Linked DNA regions of Homo sapiens. The gene in region 1 interacts genetically with each later gene. Each region holds a gene or a part of one and is shown on either strand. Other genes may lie near its edges. The genes, in order: ALG12 and GBF1.

Region 1 (3,806 bases):
AGCCTCCCAAGTAGCTGGGACTACAGGTGCACGCCACCATGCCCATCTAATTTCTGTATTTTTAGTAGAGACAGGCTTTCACTATGTTGGCCAGGCTAGTCTTGAACTCCTGACCTCGTGATCTGCCCGCCTCAGCCTCCCAAAGTGCTGAGATTACAGGCATGAGCCACTGCGCCCAGCCTAAAAATATATTTTCAAACAATCCCAAGTGACTGTGTAGGTCAGAGTGCCACCCGCGCGGCCAAGCCCACTCCCAGCAGGTCTGAGTGAACTCTCTGGGACAGGGTGCCGCCGGTTCTCTCACAATCGACTATGCCAATCTCAGGATCCTACGGCAGAGTTAGCAGCTGCCACAGACAGTGTGGCCCACGAAGATGAGGCTCTTTATTAGCTGGTCCTTAACGGAAAAGCTTGCCAACCCTGGTCTAAACGCCCTGAACCCCCGATCAAGACTCACTCTCTTCCAAACCCACCAGGCTCCTCGGAGCCCTCTTCTCCACAGGCCCTGCCCTTTGCTATGGTTTGGATCTGCGTCCCCACCAAATCTCATGTCCAACTGTGATCCCCAATGCTGGAGGTGGGGCCTGGTGGGAGGTGACTGGGTCATGGAGGTGGAGCCCTCAGGAATGGATTAGCGCCATCCCCTCCATGCTGTTCTCCTCATACCGAGTGAGTTCTCGAGAGGTCTGCTTGTTTGAAAATGGGTGACACCTCCCCCGTCCCTCTTCGTCCTGCTTTGGCCACATAAAAGCGTGCCCGCTTCCCTCTCGCCTTCCGCCATAATGGAAAGTTTTCCCAGGCCAGCCTGGAAGCTGAGCAGACACCAGTACCACGCTTCCCGTACAGCCTGCGGAACCGCGAGCCAATGAAGCCTCCTCTTTATAAATTATCCAGTCTCAGGTGTTTCTTTACATCAGTGCGAGAGCAGACTAGTGCACCCTTGAACAATCTCTGGTGCGGTTTCTGAGCTCGAGGCCCCACCTAGGATGACCGCAGCCTCCTAAGTGCCTGCCCCAAAGAGCTCAGCACTGCCAGGGCGTTCGTCCTTTGTTCCCGCCCAAACCTGGAGTGGGCAGTCACTGTGGAAAGCTCGCAATCAGAAACCTTCCACCCCCAGGACTGTCTCAAGGCCCTGGGCCCTGACACCGTGGGAAACGGCCTGCTCTTGCTCCCAGGGTGGCCGGGCTGAGGACCTGACTTCGGAGGGGGCCTTGCTCTACCCTGCACCCCCTCATTTGGACTCCCCAAGTTTGTCCTCCTCCGGATAAGGCCGACTGGCACAGCAGGGGCCCTTGCATGGAGCAGCCCCTCACGCCCAGCACACCAGGCCTCAAAGACACAGAGCTGGGTCCAGTTCCCACTGGATCTTCTTCCCTGCTGGAAAAGCCTGTCACCGAATACAATCCATCCGCGCCGCTCTCCCCGTCTTTCCTACCCTCTTTTCCATGACTCTGGCTGGGGTCTGCTCCTCCTCCAGCCCTGAGCCGACCCCTGAGACGAGAGGGAGCCAAAGGCACAGAAAAGCAGAGGCAGAGCTCCCAGGAGCCCCCACTGAGGCGCGGCTACAGCAGCCAGAGGAGCCCCCAACCCAGGCACGGCCACGGCAGCCGGAGGAACCCCCAGCGAGGAACAGTCACGGCAGCCAGAGGAGCTCCCAGGCCCGAGGGCAGTGCGGGGCAGTCGGAGCTGGGGGGCACCATCCCCTCCCCTGTAACAAGTGGCACCGGAAAGCACCTGACCGCTGCCTGAGATCAGGGACCGCATTGTGGGGCTTCCTCTCCAGCCAGAGTGGGCACCTCTCAATGCCCCAGGCCGCGGCCCTCCTGGCCTGTAGCCCTGCCGCCCCTCAATGCCCAGCGTGGCCTGAGTTGGCCTCCTGTTCCCATCAAGGCAGCAAACTCTGAACGGGCACAGAGCTGGCCAGCCTCAGCCCTGGGTTCTTCCGCAGCACCCACAGGGCCAGCAGTGATGGACTCTCCTGGGCCTGAGCCCCGGGTCCTTCCCCAGCACCCACAGGGCCCGGCAGTGATGGACTCTCCTGGCTCCCTGAGGCTTGCAACACTGAGTGGCAGCCGCGCTCAGACCACCCCACCCTCAGCCCAGGCAGTGCCCTCCCCAGGCCCTGCCAGGCCCCCAGCTCCACCTCCATCACCTGCTGCCTGCAGTCCCTCCCCGCAGGAAGCCCCCTGCCCTCCACAGGACCTTGAGCCTGGGCCACGCTGGGCCCTCTGCACCCAGCCATAGGCACCTCCCTCACCATCCCCCTCTTCCAGCCAGATGACCCGCCTTGACAAACGCCCTCAAGCCCGAGGCCCTGTCAGGATGGCCACGAACGCCCTTCCTCTACCTGACCTGTCGCCCTCAGAGCCTCCCAGGCCTGGCTGCCCCTGCCCTCTGCCGCTGCTACCTATGTGAGTGTCACTCTCCCATGACAGAGACTGGGACCGCTGGTGCATCACCATATGTGGACCAGTCACCAAATTAACCCAAGACAGAGACCACCTGAGCAAAGCCCTCTGTCAGCACAATGCCAGGCCGGTCCCATCCCATGCAGCCCTCAGGGAGGAGAGAGGACTGGGGTCACCCTCCTTTGACATAAGCGCCTAGTTCAACACACCCTGTGTTTATCTTAAAAAACAGCCCTGGTGGCTCACACCTGCAATCCCAGCACTTCCAGAGGAGGAGGCAGGAGGATGGCTTAACCCCCTAGGAGTTGAGGGGTGCAGTAAGCCCCACTCCAGCTGGGCGACAGAGCAAGACCCTGTTTCAAAAATTAAACACACACATACATCCCCCCAACAGTAAATCAGTGAACCTGTTTCCAATGAAACTATAAAAATGCATGTCACAAAAAGAGCACTCACAGGTAGGAGCAGCCTCTGGCAGCCGTGATGTTGAGCATGGGGAAGGCATAGATGATGAAGCGTAGCTCCTTGTGTGGCAGGAGGGAGTAGAGTGCCATGAAGCCCAGTGCCAGCACCGTCGGCGCGTGCGTCCTTCTGTCTACCAAGCCCAGGGGGATGAAGAGCAGGCTGCAGCCCAGGCCGCGGGGCAGGGCTGAGTAGAAGTACCACAGCAGCGGGGAGGTCTGCGGGCTGGGTTAAGGAGGCCACGCACCTGTCCACGCATGAGCCCGTGGGCTAGGTGGCAGGGTCAAGGTGGAGAAGACGCTTGAAGACAGTTGTGCTGAGAGATGCAGCCTGGACCACGGCTCGTGTGCACAGACACCACTCAGGCCTCAGGCCCCTCCTAAAAGACAGAGCCCAGGCCACAGCTCGGGTGCACACATACCACTTGGGCGTCGGGCCCCCTCCAGGCAGGACCAAGGCAGCAAGGGCCACAGGACGTTCGGTCTCTGTACCCTTTTCTTCACTGTTAAAAACAGATGGTCGGCCGGGCGCAGTGGCTCATGTCTGTAATCCCAGCACTTCGGGAGGCCAAGGTGGGTAGATCACGAGGTAAAGAGATCGAGACCATCCTGGCCAACATGGTGAAACCCTGTCTCTACTACAAATACAAAAATTAGCTGGGCATGGTGGCATGTGCCTGTAATCCCAGCTACTCAGGAGGCTGAGGCAGGAGAATCACTTGAACCAGGGAGTTGGAGGTTGCAGTGAGCCGAGATCATGCCACTGTACTCCAACCTGGCGACAGAGTGAGACTCTGTCTCAAAAAAAAAAAAAAAAAAAACCAAAAAACAAAAAACAGACGGTCACGGGTGACACACATGTTGGGATTCGTTATGCTGTTCCATCTATGCGTGTATGTTTGACATAATTCCTAAGAAAGCACTTTTTAAATGCAGA
Region 2 (3,806 bases), on another chromosome or scaffold:
GAGAGTCTAGCACCTCATTGTACAGCTTCCTGAGGCCAGTCTTTGGGCTTGTTGGGACTTCAGCAACTCCCATTTGAAGCCCTTCCCTTACTCCTAAGCTATGTAGTTGAGCATACCCTATGTATGCCCCTGCGCAAATGCTGTACCAGTTGAGAGCCAAGTGTCACTAGTGGCAGTGACAGGAGCCTTGGGAGTTGGTGTCTTGTGGGTCATTGAAGGTTACTGTCATCTCCAGCTCTTGCAAGATGATTGGCAATAAAGGGAAATTGATATTCATTCTGGTGCTTTAGTAAGGTTCAAATAGTAAGGTTCAAATAACTGTTTGTACTTTGGATTTCTTTTTTTTTTTTTTTTTTTTTTTTTCAGACGGAGTCTCTCTCTGTTGCCTAGGCTGGAGTGCAGTGGCATGATCTCAGCTCACTGCAACCTCCACCTACCGGGTTCAAGCAATTCTTCTGCCTCAGGCTCCCAAGTAGCTGGGACTACAGGCGTGTGCCACCATGCCTGGCTAATTTTTTGTATTTTTAGTAGAGACGGGGTTTCACCGTGTTAGCCAGGGTGGTCTTGATCTCCTGACCTCGTGATCTGCCCACCTTGGCCTCCCAAAGTGCTGGGATTACAGTCGTGAGCCACCATGTCTGGCCTGTACTTTGGGTTTCTTAACACAAAGAAAACCTAACCCTTTCTGGCCGGGCGCAGTGGCTCACGCCTGTAATCCCAGCACTTTGGGAGATCGAGGTGGGCAGATCACCTGAGGTCAGGAGTTTGAGACCAGCCTGGCTAACACGATGAAACCCCGTCTCTACTAAAAATACAAAAATTAGCTGGGCATGGTGGTGCATGCCTGTAATCCCAGCTACTCGGGAGACTGAGGCAGGAGAATCAGTTGAACCTGGGAGGCAGAGGTTGCAGTGAGCTGAGATCACGCCACTGCACTCCAGCCTGGGCAACAGAGTGAAACTCCATCTCGGAAAAAGAAAAAAAAAACCTAACCCTTTCTTTCTCTTATTGCCAGCTTAAATGACTTTGGTTCATGTGTGCCCTTGAGTACCTGGCCGTGACTGGACATACAGAAATATGAGTTGCCTCCACAGTTAGTCCACTTTGTCTTTCAAACCCAGGGCATTAAGCTAGGCAACCAAAGAAGCTAAGCTAGGCTAAAAACAAGAGGCTGGCTATCAACAAATGTCAGGGATGGATATAAAACTGGAGAGAAGAATTACCTAGTTTCTTTCTTCTACTTTTCCCCCAATCCTAAGTTAGAGAAGAGGAACTGTTTTATGTATCTTGAGCACTCAGGAAAGGAGTAAAAAAGAGCTCGTAAGCCAATTCAATTAGACATGAAGATGGGGGAAGCTAAGGCCATTATGATCTAGCCTTAGTTCTGTAATCACTAAGAACCACATCCTAGGAGCTTTTTAGCTGACCAACTGTGGGTGGGCTATGGTGGACTCCAGGCTGGCCTTGTCTAATTTAGAGGCAAAGTAGCTTCTATACCTCTAGTTTTTCTCATGCAGCTGCTAATCACTGGCACAGAGCAGTTCAATCAGAAACCAAAGAAGGGGATTCAGTTTCTGCAAGAGAAAGGCCTCCTCACCATCCCAATGGACAACACAGAGGTTGCTCAGTGGCTCCGAGAGAACCCTCGGCTGGACAAGAAGATGATTGGAGAGTTTGTGAGTGACCGCAAAAACATTGACCTGTTGGAGAGCTTTGTGAGGTGAGGAAGCTGTAAGAAATGTGGGATATAGCCAGGTATGGTGGCTCATGCCTGTAATCCTGACACTTTGGGAGGCTGAGGCAGGCAGATCACTCGAGCTCAGGAGTTCAAGACCAGCCTGGGCAACATGGTGAAACCCTGTCTCTACAAAAAATACAAAAATTAGCTGGGCATGGTGGCATGTGCCTGTAGTCCCAGCTGTTCAGGAGGCTGAGGCAGGAAGATCACTTGAGTCTGGGAGTTCGAGGCTGCAGTGAGCTGTGATCATGCCACTGTGATAGAGTGAGATAGAGTGAGATAGAGTGAGATCATGCCACTGTGATAGAGCTGTGATAGAGTGAGACCTTGGCTCAAAAAAAAAAAAGGTGGGACATGGTTAGTGATCAGTTTAAAGGGACAGAACATCCCTACCTCAAAGCGGTCTCTATAAATTTCTTCTGGAGACCCTAGCCAATGTTCTTCCTCTACCCATCATTTATATCTATTGGACCTGAAAGGGACTCCAACGAGATAGTTTGGGGAGCCCCCTCCATTCTGCATGGAGTCCATTCCAAAGGGGTAGAGCAGGGTTCCAGGGGGTGAGGGTTCTAGGCAAGAGTCCGTGGATGTGAAAAGTATTAAGGCTAGGGGTTGTGTTAGGGATGAACAGGAGATACTGCCCCTTTACTAGAGACCTCAGCCTCCTCTCTTCCAGTAAGAGTAGGTTAGGAGGACAGTGACTAAAAGAGCCTGACATGTGCAGCTTACACATTTTCAGCCTCTTCTTCCTTTCTTTCCCTATAGCACCTTCAGTTTTCAGGGTCTGCGACTGGACGAAGCCCTCCGCCTCTACCTGGAAGCCTTCCGTTTGCCTGGGGAAGCACCAGTCATCCAGAGGTTGCTGGAGGCATTCACAGAGCGTTGGATGGTGAGTTTGAGTGTCAGGGGCTGAGCCCAGGATCCAAGGTCAGTTTGACTGAGGGCTGAAGAATCCAGCTGCTGTCTCTTTTTTTTTTTTTTTTTTTTGAGACAGAGTCTCGCTCTGTCACCCAGGCTGGAGTGCAGTAGCGCAGTCTCAGCACACTGCAACCTCCACCCCCCGGGTTCAAGCAATTCTCCTGCCTTAGCCTCCTGAGTAGCTGGGATTTCAGGCACCTGCCACCAAGCCTGGCTAATTTTTGTATTTTTAGTAGAGATGGGTTTTGCCATGTTGGTCAGGCTGGTCTCGAACTCCTGATCTCGGGTGATCCGCCCACCTCGGCCTCCCTGAGTGCTGGGATTACAAGCGTGAACCACCGCACCCAGCCTGCTGTCTCTTAAAAAGTCAGAGAGCAAAATTAGTGACCTTTCCACAAAGAGATCAGCTTCTGTTAAGGAGTTGGCAAGAGACTGGCCACTTTCTGGATGGTACCTCTCCTCTGTACTAGCACTGACCAGTGGGTTGGTAGTGAGGGTTTAATTGGCCAGAGAAGGGCATTGACACAGGCGGGATCTTTGCTTTTTCAGAATTGTAATGGCTCCCCATTTGCCAATAGCGATGCCTGCTTTTCCCTGGCCTATGCTGTCATCATGCTTAATACTGACCAGCACAACCACAATGTTCGTAAACAGAATGCACCCATGACCCTGGAGGTAAGCTTGGGTCCCAGTCAAGGCAAAGAAGACCCAGCACAGCTTGGGAGGTAGCAGGAAGGACATAGGATTTCCAGTGGGCATGATGGATGGGGTTCTGTCCAAGGGAATCAGGAAGGGCTGGCCAACCTAGAAAAGGGACTGGGGTGGGGAAGTGGGTTTTTTCGCTTACCTTTTCCTAAGTCCTATTTACTGAAAACCCAGGAGTTCCTTAGGTGGGGCTTCAGTGTTGACACAAGGGGAAAAAACTTACTGGCCTGTCTCTAGGAGTTTCGCAAAAATCTGAAAGGTGTGAATGGAGGCAAGGACTTTGAGCAAGACATCCTGGAGGACATGTACCATGCCATCAAGTGAGTATACATAGAGAATAGTGCAGTATCTCTGTTAAGAAGAAGCACATTGCTTCCTTTCCCAGTTTTTAGAGTCATGTCAGACTGCAGTGACTCACATGCCCTGGATTTAGCCTCAGGACTTA

Evidence for each region.
Region 2: changes in ALG12 (region 1) and GBF1 together harm fitness more than expected from each alone (negative genetic interaction), as found in Homo sapiens cells (one study listed by BioGRID).

What each region holds. Positions count from the first base shown.
Region 1 is NC_000022.11:49,904,857-49,908,662, forward strand, and holds part of ALG12 (dol-P-Man:Man(7)GlcNAc(2)-PP-Dol alpha-1,6-mannosyltransferase), read right to left. Parts: intron 3,089-3,806; coding exon 2,865-3,088; intron 1-2,864. UniProt on the Homo sapiens protein: Mannosyltransferase that operates in the biosynthetic pathway of dolichol-linked oligosaccharides, the glycan precursors employed in protein asparagine (N)-glycosylation.
Region 2 is NC_000010.11:102,363,880-102,367,685, forward strand, and holds part of GBF1 (Golgi-specific brefeldin A-resistance guanine nucleotide exchange factor 1), read left to right. Parts: intron 1-1,517; coding exon 1,518-1,720; intron 1,721-2,503; coding exon 2,504-2,627; intron 2,628-3,205; coding exon 3,206-3,331; intron 3,332-3,598; coding exon 3,599-3,681; intron 3,682-3,806. UniProt on the Homo sapiens protein: Guanine-nucleotide exchange factor (GEF) for members of the Arf family of small GTPases involved in trafficking in the early secretory pathway; its GEF activity initiates the coating of nascent vesicles via the localized generation of activated ARFs through replacement of GDP with GTP.